2 separate regions of the Homo sapiens genome follow, and region 2 is linked to region 1. The links come from fine-mapping of genetic effects on gene expression. Tissue or cell type: fibroblasts. Region 1 holds a variant in brackets; the other region holds the start of a gene. All regions are shown on one strand. Distances are between the middles of the regions.

The links. PIP is the estimated chance that this variant, and not a neighbour inherited with it, causes the effect.
Region 2: HAPLN3 starts here. The variant in region 1 is fine-mapped to the expression of HAPLN3 in fibroblasts (GTEx, PIP above 0.99).

What each region holds. Positions count from the first base shown.
Region 1 is chr15:89,132,894-89,140,993 of GRCh38, reverse strand. The region is part of intron 3 of ABHD2 (abhydrolase domain containing 2, acylglycerol lipase); the gene reads right to left. It also overlaps the pseudogene HMGB1P8. Among named protein-coding and RNA genes, the nearest start is that of ABHD2, 48 kb to the right of the region's middle. RefSeq lists enhancers at 433-932, 933-1,434. The variant C/G (reference allele first, on the strand shown) is at 4,235.
Region 2 is chr15:88,892,061-88,900,158 of GRCh38, reverse strand. HAPLN3 (hyaluronan and proteoglycan link protein 3) reads left to right here and starts at 4,615. Exons shown (of 5, transcript NM_178232.4): 1 at 4,615-4,700. It overlaps MFGE8 (milk fat globule EGF and factor V/VIII domain containing), which reads left to right. Exons shown (of 8, transcript NM_005928.4): 7 at 348-503; 8 at 627-1,476. The coding sequence ends at 764. RefSeq lists enhancers at 2,501-2,550, 2,487-2,781, 4,778-5,389.

The sequences.
Region 1 (8,100 bases):
CTGTCCAACAAAAAAAAAAAAGTGAAACTAAACTATTAACTATAATAAAGTTATGCCCTGAGCATCCCTTAGTAACACACTGTCTCTGGGCAAAGGGAGCCAGGCAGTTCTCCCTCAGTGCCACGAAGATGGCTGGGGCTGTGGATAAGCACAGATGGCACTGGTGGCTTGAGGTTAAGGCCATGTTGTGAAACAAAGGAAATGGAAAACAAAAACACATCTTTAAACGTGAAGATACAGTAAGGTGCTCTCTCTCGCAGGAGAGACACACAGGCCCTGGTACCAGCAGAGGTGACGTGAGGCTCCCAGATCACACACAGGGGGGGCCTGTGCTCCTTTGAATGGAGAAGCTGGCAGAAGGGTCAGCACAAATAAGGTGGTGTGTGTATGTGTGTGTCTGTGTGTGTGTGGGGGTCTCTCTCTCAATCTGTAGAGTTGAATTTGCATAAGTTAAATGTACATATGTAACTCCATTATATATTAGAAAGCATATCAAGATAATAGCTAACTATATTGTAACGTTAAAAAAAAAGAAGAAATTCATCTTTAATTTATCACCTGCCTAAATTCCAAAGCATCAGGTACAAGAAGGAATTTCAAGCACAGAGAAGTGTTTTTGCTGGATTCTGTTGGGCAAACACAGCCACCTCCAGTATTTGCCTGGAACTTACTCTAGAGGTTTATTTAAAAGGTCATCCAGCAAAATGAATGGCTATCTTCTCCAGGGCTTGTGACCATAAAATGTCAGGTCCACAGGTCTTTCAGTAGAGCTTGAGGAAAAGAACTGCTAACATAGCACGTGAGTGGAAGCCTCACAAGTCCACAGGCTCTGACTGTTCCTAACACAGGCTGCTCAGCTCTACACACCGGCTGTGTCACTTTACACTCTGCCCTCAGACTCCCCTCTCTTTCTGCAAAACCCAAGTCCAAAGGGACTCTTCAGCCACTGAGGCAAAACGCAGAGGTGTTACATCATCCTGGGAAGCCCTCCCAAGAAGAAAACTCTCTCCATCAGGGCTACAGAGACCTGCTGCGTGGCTGCTCCAGACAACTGCACACTCAAATGGCTGGTGATGTCCTCTGCTGGCTGCGTGCTGAAACTCCGGTCAGATTCTAGTTAGGTGCCAAGACTGTTAGGAGACATAGGCTCGGGATGTTTCCTCAGTTTCCAGAGAGAATGCCCATCTTCACAGGCCCTCCACTCTGCTTACTTGAGTGCACACACTCAAGGGAAGAAAAGCAAATTTTTCATTTCAGAAAAAAATATTTGTCCACTGAGAAAAAAAGGTGACCTTTACTCTGACAAACAGATTTGTTTTCAGAGTGACAACATGGACTGAGGATGCCCAACTAGGAGTGTGCTGCTGGCACCTGGGGCCAAACCAAAGATGTTATCAGGTCCGAACCTGCCTCTACCTATATTTTATTTTGGCTCTTATATATTGATTTAATAAAATTCAACAAATACGAGTGCTGTGAGGCATACAGAGATTAGAGCCGGACACAGTGACCGCCCTGGTGGCATTCGTAATCTGAAGGTAGGATGCATGATGAATACACAGGCAGCTACTGTCACAGACAGGAGCGGTGGGCAATGGGGTCAGAGAGATAGAATAGGATGATACTATGGGGAGACAATCATGAGGCTGAGAAGTACCAATTTCACTTAGTGCATCATGGGGAGTACCAAGATCTCAGAGAGGAGAGATATTTCTGAGCACCAAATCTCTCCATCAGGAGCTGGGTGAGTCATGTCTCTAGTTTATTTATTTACTTATTTTTAGAGACAAGGTCTTACTCTGTCACCCAGGCTGGAGTGCAGTGGTACAACTACGGCTCACTGCAGCTTTAACCTCCCATGCTCAAGCAATCCTCCCATCTCAGCCGCCTGAGTAGCTGGGACCACAGGCACATGCCACCATGCCCAGTTAATTTTTTTTTGTAGAGACAGGGTCTTGCTATGTCGCCAGGGCTGGTCTTGATCTCCCGGGCTCAAGCAATCCTCCCACCTCAGCCTCCCACAGTGCTGGAATTATAGAAGTGAGCCATCCTGCCCGGCCTTCTAGCTTAATCTTCACAATTCTGAGCAATGGTGTCTTCCCCGTTTTAAAAATGAGGAAAAAAAAAGAAAAAAAAAAAGCTAGGATTAGAGGACAGGTCTCTGATTCAGTCCAAAGCGTTCCTTACTTTATCACACTCAAGACTCATCAACTCCCCCAACCAGAAGTTAAAATAACAGCTTTGTGCCTATTTTCTCCTGTCTGATCAACTGTCAAAATGTTCTATATTAAATAATGTTTCTTCAAATTGAAAACTGAATTTGTTGGAGCTTCTCTACAGTGGTCTTCACAGGTCTTTGAAAAAAAACATTTCTTTCGTTTTGCATGTTTCTCACAACTGTAACTGACTTCTTGTTAGAGGAGTTTTTTTCTGCAGAAGATACATCTGGGGGCTAATTAATTTGAATATTCACATTTAATTATCTCTAAGATAAGGCCAGAATGTTAACAAAATCATACTGAATATCTCCCCAAAGATCCAGGAGAGCGATGACAGTGAGAGCAAGAGAGGATGGAAGTGCTTCTAGAAAGGTGACAGGTGTTTGATTTGGGGATACATTTTTACCCTACTTTCATGGGTGAGAATAAACCCAGGAGGACAAGCATCAGTGGTGGGGGAAACACTGGGAGTGAAGCTTTGTGGCAGCTCCACGAGTCTGCAAACTGAGTTCCAGGCCTTCCTGTGTGTGCACATGTGCATGTGCATGCATGTGTGTGCACACAGGAAAGGTAAGGAAGCCGGCAAGGGCCAGAGTTTAGGAGAACATTTTGTCAGTTCTTTTCCAGATCCTGAACTGCCAGAGCCTCCCTGCTCCACAGGCCTGGAAGCCAGGGCCCTTGCTGCTCCTACCACAGACACCTCTGGTTTCTTTTCTGGCCTATCTACCCCTAGCCTGGTGGACCTGAAGCCAGCAGGTCAACAGCAGGTCCTTCGTGAGCCCATCCCACTGGGCTTCACCCTTCTCCACTAGGACACAGCCCCCACTGGAAGCCCTTCTTTTCAGGAGGGCCAGATGTGGAGTAGACCCTGTGTGCACATCTCACCAGTCCTACTGGGGAGGTAAGGCTGAGGCTGGGAAAGGGCTTCCTCATTAGCTTCAGGAACAAACACCTTGGGCCTTTCATCTCAAAATGGCAGCAACATATTCAGCTTCCCAAACACCCATTAATAGGCTCATCAGAAATCCACTTTGAACACAGCATTTTCCCCTCACTGGAGGCAAATTCTTCTCCACAGCTGTCACACATTACATTTTCACTGTTGTTGCTAAATGCTCTATTCCTGAATTGCAGGATCTGCACAGGAAAATTCCAATGCAGAGACTGTTTCTGCCTGAAATGACCAAAAGTGGCCTGAGGAAACAAAAGAGCAATCCTCTTCCGTTCCCGAACTGGTTTCTAAATACAGGACGGAGGCCACTGGGCCAGGCTGGTACATCTGTGACCTTTGTGCATATCGTGCAAACTATAAAATATGAATGTTAGGAGAACAGCCCCATGAGTTACAATAAAACCACTTAAAAAGAAACTACTTTTTTGCTCCAAGGAAAAATAAATGTGCTTTTCTAAAGTTCAAAGAAAACCAGTTAAAACCCCTCAGAACTGTATCCACATGTTAAATGCATCTGATCCCACTATCTTCCTGTTCACAAACAGCACGCGGAACTGGTCACATCCTCCCTAGGCACACCAAAGCACAGTCCTCTCTCCTCACGTTGCATTTCAACCTGGTTTTGACACCATGCTTTAAGTAGGGAGGCAGTTTATTAAGAAGCTCCAGAGTTCCAGTCTCCAGGGTTCCACTGGAACCCTGGATCCGTTAGAGAACTGGTCCTGCAAACAGCCAGTCAAAGATTAGTGACCTAACTTTAGGAGAAGGCACCACTATTCCCAGACCTGGGCTGCCAAGGTGCTAAGTGCAAAGTTCCCAGACTCACTCTGTGCTAACCAAACAGGATGTACGCTGACGCTCAGAACACAGAGCACCCGTGTCTTGTCCCCATCTGCCTAGTCACCTCTCTCCTGAGGACATGCACATAGATGCCAATGGTCTGCTCTTTGTCCAACACAGTGCCTTTTGGCTACTTCCCAGGCCAAGGCTACCTCAAAATCTGTGCCAGCGTTATGGGGAGGGAAGATTAGAGCTGGAAAATCACATTATATTTGCCACTATT[C/G]CTAGTGGAGGAAAACTCAAATACCTAAATGTGAAGCCCCTGGATTACCTACACAGAATGCTCTTTTAAGAACACGCTAATCAACTAGGAGCTGCGCTGGCTGGAGAGCAATGTTATAGAGCGGAGAGAGTGAGGAGGCTGCACCTGGCTCCCGATATCACAGCCATTGCAGTACAATGAGCTCCATAGAGATAGCACTGGGGCAAGTGAGAGCCAGATGGGCACTGGGCAATTCTGTGCCTTGCTGAGGAAAAATAACTAAACATGGGCAAAGGAGACCCTAAGAAGCCAAGAGAGAAAATGCCATCATATGCATTTTTTGTGCAAACTTGTAGGGAGGCACATAAGAACAAACATCCAGATGCTTCAGTCAACTCCTCAGAGTTTTCTAAGAAGTGCTCAGAGAGGTGGAAGACCATGCCTACTAAACAGAAAGGAAAATTCGAAGATATGGCAAAGGCAGACAGGGCCCATACGAAAGAGAAACGAAAACCTGTATCTTTCCTAAAGGGGAGACAAAAAAGACGTTCAGGCTGGGTGTGGTGGCTCACGCCTGTAATCTCAGCACTTTGGGAGGCTGAGGCGGGTAGATCACCTAAGGTCAGGAGTTCGAGGCCAGCCTGGCCAAGACAGTGAAAGCCCGTCTCTACTGAAAAAAAAAAAAAAATTGCCAGGCATGGTGGCGGGCGTCTGTAATCCCAGCTACTCGGGAGGCTGAGGCAAAAGAATCGCTTGAACCTGGGAGGCAGAGGTTGCAGTGAGCTGAGATTGCGCCATTGCACTCCAGCCTGGGCAACAAAAGGGAAACTCCATCTCAAAAGAAAAAAAAAAAAGTTAAAGGATCCCAGTGCACCCAAGAGGCCTCCTTCGGCCTTCTTCCTGTTCTGTTCTGTCCTGTTCTGTTCTGTTCTGAGTATCGCCCAAATATCAAAGGAGAACATCTGGCCTGTCCACTAATGATGTTGCAAAGAAACTGGGAGAGATGTGGAATAACATTGCTGCAGATGACAGGCAGCCTTATAAAAAGAAGGCTGCGAAGCTGAAGGAAAAGTAAGAAAAGGATATTGCTGCATATCGGGCTAAAGGAAAGCCTGCTGCAGCAAAAAAAGGGAGTTGTCAAGGCTGAAAAAAGCAAGAAAAAGAAGGAAGAGGAGGAAGATGAGGAAGATGAAGAGGATAAGAATGAGGAGGAGGAAGATGAAGATGATGATGAATAAGTTGGTTCTAGTGTAGTTTTTTTTCTCGTCTATAAAGCATTTAACCTGTACATAACTCACTCCTTTTAAAGAAAAAAACTGAAATGTAAGGCTGTGTAAGATTTGTTTTTAAACTGTACAATGTCTTTTTTTTTTTGTATAGTTAACACACTACCAAATGTGTCTTTAGATATCCCTGTCCTGGTGGTATTTTCAATAGCCACCAACCTTGCCTAGTACAGTATGGGGATTGTAAACTGGCATGGAAATTAAAAGCAGGTTCTTGTTAGTGCATGGCACAAATTAGTTATATATGGGGATGGTAGTTTTTTCATCTTCAGTTGTCTCTGATGCAGCTTATATAAAATGACTGTTGTTAAGTGAATACCACTCTGTAATTGCAAAAAAAAAAAAAAAAAAGAAAAAGTTGTAGCCATTTTGTTGACATTCTGAATGCTTCTAAGCAAATACAATTTTTTATTAAAAATAAATAAAGAAAGAACACACCAATCAAGAGATGACTTTAAGGATTAAAATGCTGACATTTGACATCAGCATTTGTACTACATCTTGCCTTTCTTTGATGTGCAGAAAACAACTCATAAAATGGCAAGCAATGATGTTAGGAAAAAGTAGGTTCTACAAATATTTAATGAAAATTATGTTTCTTTTGTCAGTAATTATATAGATCATTACTAATAAGCCATACTCAAAACTTGACCCCATTCTTGCTCCCAGGGAGTTCACAATCAAGAAAAGGAGATAAGAAAACTTTATAATGCTCTTTCGGGCTCAAAGACTTGAATAAATGAACTTGCACTGGAAAACTTGGCATCACAAACATGTCAATTTTCCCTAAATTACCTATAAACTTAAGAGATACACAATAAAAATAATAAGATTTTTATATGTGGAATTAAACAAGCATTCTAAAGTTCATTTGGAAAAATGAACCAGCTATAATAGCCAAGAAAAGTATGAAAACAAGCAGTGCTGGGGTATGAGCATCGCCCCACTGCCCACAGCAAAACATAGTACAAAGCTGCAATCTGCTGATGGTATATGTTCAGGACCATCAACAGAACACAAAAGACTGGAAATATGCCTAAATACATCCAGGAAATTTAGTTGGTGAAAAAGGTGGCATTTGAATAATGGGGTAAAGATGGATTGTTTAATAGTGTTGGACAAAGTGTAGCCGTCTTGAAAAAAATTATGTTGGAGCCACACCTCACACCAGGATAAATTCTGGAAGGATGAAACATTTCAAAATAAAAATGAAATCATTCATATGCTAGAAGAAATTCTAGGCTTTTAAAAATAATCTTGCAGTGAAGAAGACCTTTCTAAGGAAACCAGAAATCCCAGAAGCCACAAAAGAAACAATTGAAAAATTTAATTATGCAAACATTAAAAAAAATTATGCGGCCGGGCGCCGTGGCTCACGCCTGTAATCCCAGCACTCTGGGAGGCTGAGGCGGGAGGATCACGAGGTCAGGAGATCGAGGCCATCCTGGCTAACATGGTGAAACCCCGTCTCTACTAAAAATACAAAAAAAATTAGCCGGTCGTGGTGGCAGGCACCCGTAGTCCCAGCTACTCAGGAGGCTGAGGCAGGAGAATGGTGTGAACCCAGGAGGCGGAGCTTGCAGTGAGCCGAGATCACGCCACTGCACTCTAGCCTGGGTGACAGAGCGAGACTCTGTCTCAAAAAAAAAAAAAAAAAAAATTATGCATGGCAAATACCACTATGGGCAAAGTCAAAAGACAAATGACAAACTGAGAACAAATATTTGCAATTCATATCACAAAGGGCTAATTTCCCTAGTACATAAAGAGCTCCCTCAAATGATTAGGAAAAAGACCAATGACCATCAGAAAAATGGTTAGAGGCCACCAACAGGCAGTGAACAGAAAAGGAAATAAAAAGAGTTCTAAAATATGAAAAGATACACAGTCTCTTTAATCAAAGAAAGACTAATTAAAACCACAGTGAGAAAACATTTTTCACCTACCAGATTGGCAAATATCAAAAAGTAGAACTCCTGATGTTGGCAACGTTTTGGGGAAATGTGCTCACAGTGCTGGTGTGGAGAGGCTTGAGGACAACAGCTAGCAAAATTTTCCATGCACATCCCCTTTGACCCAGTAGTTCCACCTCTAGGAGTTTATCCTATACTGACAGGTGCGCATCGTGATGAAAATACAGAAGCATTCAATGCAACATTGTGAAAGCAAAAGATTACAAATAAAGGAAACCTCTATCTAGGAGACTGGTTAAACAAACTATTTTTTTATGGAATACGAAGCAGTCAAGACATAAATGGAGGAAGCTCTTTCAGCACTCCTATGGACAAATCTCTGAGTGATATTTCACAAAGAAAAGATGGAAGGATAAACAAGAGCCGACTGACAGCAAGGGCAACACGGAGGGTACAAGGTCATAGGTTCTACTGGCTGATAAAAGAACCTCTGGGAAATGCAGCCAGGCTTCTTGACCAGGGTGAGCCTTGAGCACAAATGTAAGAGGAAGGAAATGATGCAGCTGCCCTGGAGCTTTCCGTCAGAGGAACAGTTACAAAAAGCTGATAGAAGCCACTGTTGATGGCTGTGGGTTAGCCCTGTTGAAATGGCAGCCCTCCCCTACGGTATGTGGGCACAGGAAAACAT
Region 2 (8,098 bases), 240 kb after region 1:
GCGGTTCTTCTGACTCAGCCTCCCTAGTAGCTGGGATTACAGGCAGCCACCATCATGCCCAGCTAATTTTTTGTATTTTTAGTAGAGACGGGGTTTCACCATGTTGGTCAGGCTGGTCTCGAACTCCTGACCTCAGGTGATCCACCTGCCTCAAGTCTCTCCCAAAGTGTTGGGATTATAGGCATGAGACACCATGTCCGGCCTTATGCCCATTTTATAGCCAAAGAAACTGAGGCTCACCCAAGTAGTTTTTTTCAAAACTAGAATTCATGCCTCAGTGTGTCTGCCTCTTTTCACCTTACTGGAGATGGTCCAAGCAGAGAAAATGTGGTTGGTTTCTTCTGTAGGTGGACCTGGGCTCCTCGAAGGAGGTGACAGGCATCATCACCCAGGGGGCCCGTAACTTTGGCTCTGTCCAGTTTGTGGCATCCTACAAGGTTGCCTACAGTAATGACAGTGCGAACTGGACTGAGTACCAGGACCCCAGGACTGGCAGCAGTAAGGTGGGTGTCTGTCCAGCTGCCCACCCTTTGCCATTCCTTCATTACTTCCCTGGGAGTCTGGCCTGGGGCTCTGAGGGGAGGGGGGCTGGCTCGGGGTCCTCCTGACACCCGCTCTGCCTCTAGATCTTCCCTGGCAACTGGGACAACCACTCCCACAAGAAGAACTTGTTTGAGACGCCCATCCTGGCTCGCTATGTGCGCATCCTGCCTGTAGCCTGGCACAACCGCATCGCCCTGCGCCTGGAGCTGCTGGGCTGTTAGTGGCCACCTGCCACCCCCAGGTCTTCCTGCTTTCCATGGGCCCGCTGCCTCTTGGCTTCTCAGCCCCTTTAAATCACCATAGGGCTGGGGACTGGGGAAGGGGAGGGTGTTCAGAGGCAGCACCACCACACAGTCACCCCTCCCTCCCTCTTTCCCACCCTCCACCTCTCACGGGCCCTGCCCCAGCCCCTAAGCCCCGTCCCCTAACCCCCAGTCCTCACTGTCCTGTTTTCTTAGGCACTGAGGGATCTGAGTAGGTCTGGGATGGACAGGAAAGGGCAAAGTAGGGCGTGTGGTTTCCCTGCCCCTGTCCGGACCGCCGATCCCAGGTGCGTGTGTCTCTGTCTCTCCTAGCCCCTCTCTCACACATCACATTCCCATGGTGGCCTCAAGAAAGGCCCGGAAGCGCCAGGCTGGAGATAACAGCCTCTTGCCCGTCGGCCCTGCGTCGGCCCTGGGGTACCATGTGGCCACAACTGCTGTGGCCCCCTGTCCCCAAGACACTTCCCCTTGTCTCCCTGGTTGCCTCTCTTGCCCCTTGTCCTGAAGCCCAGCGACACAGAAGGGGGTGGGGCGGGTCTATGGGGAGAAAGGGAGCGAGGTCAGAGGAGGGCATGGGTTGGCAGGGTGGGCGTTTGGGGCCCTCTATGCTGGCTTTTCACCCCAGAGGACACAGGCAGCTTCCAAAATATATTTATCTTCTTCACGGGAACTCTTGGTGTGGTTCGTTATTGTTTCATGGGAATGGGATTTAAATTGCGCTGGTTTCCCCATCCCCCACCTGTGGTCCTCCCTGAGCCCCAGCTTGCTTGCTTGCTTTTTTTTTTTTTTTTTTGAGATGGAGTCTTGCTCTGTCGCCAGGCTGGAGTGCAGTGGTGTGATCTCGGCTCATTGCAATCTCTGCCTCCTGGGTTCAAGCATTTCTCCTACCTCAGCCTCCCAAGTAGCTGGGACTATAGGTGCACACCACCATGCCCAGCTAAGTTTTATATTTTTAGTAGAGACAGGGTTTCACCGTGTTGGCCAGGATTGTCTCAATCTCTTGACCTTGTGATCCACCTGCCTCGGCCTCCCAAAGTGCTGGGATTACAGGCGTGAGCCACCGTGCCCAGCCCCATCTTTCTTTATGTCACCTGCCTGACTACACATAGCTTCATAGCAGGAGGCTGGAGACTTTGGTCCAGGGCGGCCTGAAGGAAGTCAGGACTTCCAGGTCCTCAAAACCTGACTTCCCCTCTTCCCTCTGCTTTCTACCTCCATGCCGTCTGGCCCTGAGCCCTACAACTGCTGCCTGGTCAGGGGCCCAGCGAGTGCTGGCAGACACTGTCTCCTGAATGCTTTTGCTCCCTTCCTGCCAGGAAGACTGGCTGGGGCAGCTGGTTTTCCCCTTCAGCAGTTTCCATTCTCTCTGCAACTGGAGTGGTGGGCTGGAGAAACTATAAGAAACTCAGTGAACCTGGATGCCTTCCGAACTGCGGGAGTTCCTGGGGTGGGTGCAGCGTGGGACTGGAGGAGGGGGCCGGGGCTCTGCCAAGTGGGCATGAGGCCTCCTGCCTGAACACACTGGTTCCTGGTAGGCCACTGGCGTGTGTGCTCCAGGGATACCCTCTCTGCCCTCCCCTGTGTGGGGGTCATCAAGAAGTGGGGGTGGGCCTTGCGGGCCAGTGTCTTGGTGATCTGGAAGGGTGACTTGCAGGCAGAGGCTTGGCTAGCTTGGGAAGGGGTGTAGGAAAAACCACCCTCTTTGTCAAGGTGAATTTTTCCAAACTTTGGGAGCCGGCTGTGTTCTGCAGGCAGGGGGTGCATCTGAGCAGCAGGAGGTGGGGCCGCCTCTGAGCAGCAGGAGGTGGGGCCGCCTCTGAGCAGCAGGAGGTGGGGCCACAGGGCTGCCAAAGGGAGGGCGTGGCTTTGCTGGAACCACATCAGGGAAATGTGTCTGGAAGTGGTTCCTTTCTGAGACCTGCGGTTGCTGGGCTCCTGGGCCTAGCAGGGTCTGAATAAAAGGCCCAGGCCGTGGTCTTCGTAGGAACTGAGGATGGGGGACTCCCTTCCCCTGGGTGTCCCTTGGCCTACTGCCTCCCGTTTCAGAGCTCTCTTCTGCGGAGCGGTGTGGATTGGGTTTAGAGCCAAGCCTTTCTGCGTGCTTCCAAGCCTCAGGTCTCCCTCCCGGGGGAGTTTCCTGCCCTGAACCCCTGTTCCAGCATACCCTGGGGATAAGCAGACAGTGGGAGAAGCATCTCTGCTCTGGGATGGGTTGGCCACAGCCTTCTAAAAGTCCCCCTCCTGGGACCCTGGAGTGGAGTCCCCTCACTCCTGACCCCCTCCTTCCTTCCTTGGCTTCTCTCCCTCAGCAGTGTCTTCCATTTGCCCAGCTTTTACCATCACCCCTACACATTGACTTTTTTCTGCCCCACTGCAAGGCAGAGGGTGAGCGTTCAGATTCCACCTGCTGGCTACCCCTACCCCTGGCTGGCATGTTCAACTCGACTTAACTGTAGCAAAATGTGCTCTCCCTACTGTCCATCCTCTCCCCTGTCGGGAACCTGCAGAGGGACCTACCTTGGCTCCCCTTTGCCCATCAAGCCTGGCGTTCCTTTTAGGTGTAGTTTACCTGTTGATCACAGTTCTTTGTGCTCCAATGTGCCCCTGGCTGTGTGTAACACACACACATGCACACACACACACACACTCATGGGCCAACTTGAGCTGTGTTTAGGAAGAGGCTCTGAGCTCTGTGACCCTGTGACCCTTCGACCCTTCCCCCAGCCAAAGCTGAAGGACCTCCTTAGTCTTTTCTGCTGAGGAAACATCGGGCTGTCCAGGCCAGGGCCCCCATTGGTCTGGACAGGAAAGAAAACACCCTGTCCAAACAGAGGCATCCTGAGCGGCTGCCTGGATGGCTGTGCTGATTAGCAGGATTCCGAAGGGAGGCCCACCCCTGTTGGAGGACCACTCAGAAGCCTGATTGCCCCTGCAGGCTGCAGAGGTATCCCACCCTGTGTCTCCCCTCCCAGCCAGGGCCACTCATTCAAGCCCCATGTGCTGGGGATAGCACCTGCTATGTGCCTGACAGTGAGTTGGGAATCTGGCCAGTGTTTCATGATGGCCAAACTCAGGGGCATGAGGACATCAGCAACCCCTTGCTTTTTTTTTTTTTTTTTTTTTGAGACGGAGTTTTGCTCTTGTTGCCCAGGCTGGAGCACAATGGCATGATCTCAGCTCACTGCAACCTCCGCCTCCTGGGTTCAAGCAATTCTCCTGCCTCAGCCTCCCAAGTAGCTGGGATTACAGGCATGCTCCACCACGCCCAGCTAATTTTGTATTTTTAGTAGGGACAGGGTTTCACCATGTTGCCCAGGCTGGTCTTGAACTCCTGACCTCAGGTGATCCACCGGCCTCCACCTCCCAAAGTGCTGGGGTTACAAGCATGAGCCACTCACTGCACCTGGCCTCACCCCCTTGCTTTCTATTTGGAAAAGAAAGTAATACAGAAGTCTCACCCCTTCCACAATCAAAGGTGGGGAGCAGCCTTAGCCCCTAGCAGAATGCTGGACAGGGGCTTCCCCTGCTTACTCCCACTGTTTTTGGTATACCAGGCTTTCTAAGGGGATCCCCCCTCCCCAAACTCTCCTATTCCACCCCTACTCTCCTTTCCCAAGACGTGAGGGCCTCAACTCTTGCACACCCTCTTTGCGGTGGTTCCCAGCGAGTCTGGAGACCGCTCAAGCCTGCAGCAGCTCCTCCCTTCGAGCCCAGCCCTTGGGAGGGAAAGGTGCGCGTGTTCCTTTAAGGGGCTGGTCTGGCGGGAGCGCGGGGGTTTTTCTGCTGCCGCTTCCTTTCTGCCCTTTTAATTTCCCCGAAATCAGACTGCTGCCTTGGACCGGGACAGCTCGCGGCCCCCGAGAGCTCTAGCCGTCGAGGAGCTGCCTGGGGACGGTACGTGGCTTAGGGGTCGCTGGGCTTCTGGGGCTGTGTGCGGGCCGGGTTCCTCCCTTACCGCTTTGGGTGCCCTGCGGGTCCCCACACCTCCCGGGCAGGGTCCGGGGAAGGGGCAGGAGGCGTGGGCCGGGCACTGCGGAGGCCCGGGCTGAGATGGGCTGTGATCGCGGGCGAGGGGCGCCCGGGGCACAAGTGGGGAGGGAGCGGCGCGGGGATGCGGGCGCCGGACCCTCGTGCCCACCGTGAGGGAGCAGAGCCCGAGCGGACCCCGTGGCCTCCGAGACCACCGTCCGCCTCCAGCCCCCTTCCTGCCAGGGTCCGCTTGGCTCTCTCCCCTGTCGTCTGTCCAGGGTCGGCTGCCTCCAGTGCCGTCCGCGGCGCCCCAGGCCCTGCCCCTGGGTATCTGTTGGATGCTCCGGGGGCCCCGGGAGTCCTGGGAGGGGCTGAGGGCAACCTGCGAGGCGGCTGGCGGACCTGCGCCTCTGGACCGCAGCTGGCCGGCTCTGGGCGCCTGGGGCAAAGGCAACTGATGCCTATGGGTTCCAGACCTCGCTCACCGGGGTTCTTGCCCCAGGGACAGCGAGGCCAGAAGGGTAGGGAGGGTGGAGGGCAGAGCCCTGGGTGGGAGATGGCGACCCTCAGGGAGAAACGTAGGCTTGTGCGCAGCCAGTATGGAAACAGCACGGCACTTGGACCCAGTCCTGCCACCAGCTCGTTGGCAGCCACAGGCCACAGGCAGCCTGTAAACCTGTTGGGACCTTGGTGTCCAGCGCTGACCCGCGGGAGTGCCTGTGCTCCCTGGAGTAGGGGGCAGCGATTGAGAGGGGCCCTGGCTTCTCTCCCTCGACGCCGCCCGGGCCAGCGGATTGGGAAACACCTCCGGTTTTCATTCTCCTGGGGGCTGCAGGTTTCAAAGGCGGAGATCAAGCCTTGTGCAAACAGGGACAGGGATGTCAAATTTCTCGCTGGGAGCAGCGCTCGTGCAGACCTCGCGGGCGATGCTGCCTCCTGCTGGTACCTGGGGGACTTGTACTCACGGAAGGCCCAGTGCGGACATGCACCTGGCAGGGAGGTGGCACCTACCCTCCCTCCAAGCCCAGGCTTATTGTTCTTGGGTGGAGGGGTCCCTAGGCTGGGGCGCCTGGGAAAAGCAAAGGGCTGGTCATCAGGAAACCTGAACTTTCTCTAAGTTCGAGATATTTGACAAAGATAACGCCTTGGGTAGTTCACTGACCTCCACTCTCTTGGCCTCAGTTTCCTCAACTGTGAAGAGGAGGCAGTGGTGACCACTTTGTCTCGTAGGCAGTGAGAGAGGAGAAAGAGCCACTGAGATGGTGTAAGACTTCACTGTGTGAACTGCTCACCAGAGTAGTAACAGGTCATATTTTCCCAGTGCTTGCTCCTTATCAAGCATCAAGCAGTATTTTCAGTGCTCTGCAGCTATTCTCTCCCTTAATCTTCACGAGAGTGTTTTCTGTTTGGTATTGTCGTGACCGCCCCCCCCACCCCAACTTTTTTTTTTTTTTTGAGATGGAGTCTCACTCTTCTTGCCCAGACTGGAGTGCAATGGCTCAATCTCGGCTCACTGCAACCTCCGCCTCCTGGGTTCAAGCGATTCTTCTGCTTCAGCCTCCCGAGTAGCTGGGACTACAAGCGCTCATCACCACACTCGGCTAATTTTTGTATTTTTAGTAGAGATGGGGTTTCACCGTGTTGGCCAGGCTAGTCTTGAACTCTTGACCTCAGGTGATCTGCCCACCTCAGCCTCCCAAAGTGCAGGGATAACAGGCATGAGGCACTGTGCCTGGCTTGTGACCCCCATTTTAAAGATGAAGAAACTGAGGCTCAGAGAGGTGCAGCGACTTGTCCAATGACAGAGGGTTAGTAAGTGGGTGGAGCCAGAACTGAATGCAGGCAGCCAATCTGCTTCTAGAGCCTGAAATCTTTGCCATGTTCATTTGTTGAGCACCTGCTGCATGCCAGGGACCAGACATCATACATCTTCTATAATTGTCACCACAGCCCATTTTTTTTTTTTGAGCTGGAGTCTTGCTCTGTCGGCCAGTCTGGAGTGCAGTGGTGTGGTCTTGGCTCACTGCAACTTCCGCCTCCTGGGTTCAAACAATTCTCCTGCCTTAGCCACCCCAGTAGCTGGGATTACAGGCATCTGCCACCACACCCAGCTAAATTTTGTATTTTCATTAGAGATGGGGGTTTCACTGTGTTGGCCAGGCCAGTCTCGAACTCCTGACCTCAGGTGATCCACCCCCTCAGCTTCCCCAAATGCTGTAGGATTACAGGTGTGAGCCACTGCACCCGGCCTTAAGTTCCTTTTTTTTACAGATGAGGAAATGGAGGCACAGAGAGGTGAACTTGCCCGAAGTCACTCAGCAGGATGCAGTGTGTCCAGCTCCAATACCGAGCCCAGGTCTGAGTGCCCAGACAGGACTCCAGAAGATTTGGGGAACTATCCACTGCCAAGGTGACTGGGCTGGACTTGGTCTTGGGCCTTCCAGCTGGTGGCACCTCTGTGGTGGTCCTGAGGAGTTGGTGGCTGGATAGCCATGGTAGGGGAGCAGAGGCTACCCATCCCTCCCCTCAGTGGTAGTGGTCAGGGATGGTCAGAGATGGACCTGAGGCAAGGCAGCAACCAAGTGGCAATTGCCACTCCTGACTCCCACACAGGACTCTGTCCTGTGCACTGACCTTAGCATTCAAGGCTGTGCTTGTCCTCAGCCCCCGAGTTCCCCTTTAGTCTTCTCTGGAGAGAGGAAATTTTCTGTTCAGAGAGGTCAAATGACTTTCCCAGGGTCACCCAGCTAGCAGGTGGCAGAGCCAAGACCCAACCTCAATGAGTTTAACTTGAAACCTTGGGCCTGTGTGCTGCTCCTCTCTCAGAGAGGCCTGGAAAATGGCCAGCTTCCTCCTGGCCTTTTGTTCTTGGGCACAGGGCTGATCTTTTCTTATAATTCCTTTTGTTTTTCTTTTCTTTTTTTTTTGAGATGCAGTTTCACTCTGTCGCCCAGGCTGGAGTGCAAAGGTGTGATCTCGGCTCACTGCAACCTCTGCCTCCCAGGTTCAAGCAATTCTCCTGCCTCAGCCTCTGGAGTAGCTGGGATTACAGGCACCCACCACCACACCCATCTATTTTTTATATTTTTAGTAGAGACGGGGTTTTACCATGTTGGCCAAGCTGGTCTCAAACTCCTGACCTCAGGTGATCTACCCTCCTTGGCCTCCAAAGTGCTGGGATAACAGGTGTAAGCCACTGTGCCCAGCTAATTCCTTTTGATTTTCTTGGCATCCCCCTCAATGTGAGGTTACATTACTGCTGAGTTAGCATCCAACAAAGAGGTGTTACTGATGTCACTTAGTGGCAGAAACGCCTGCATTTG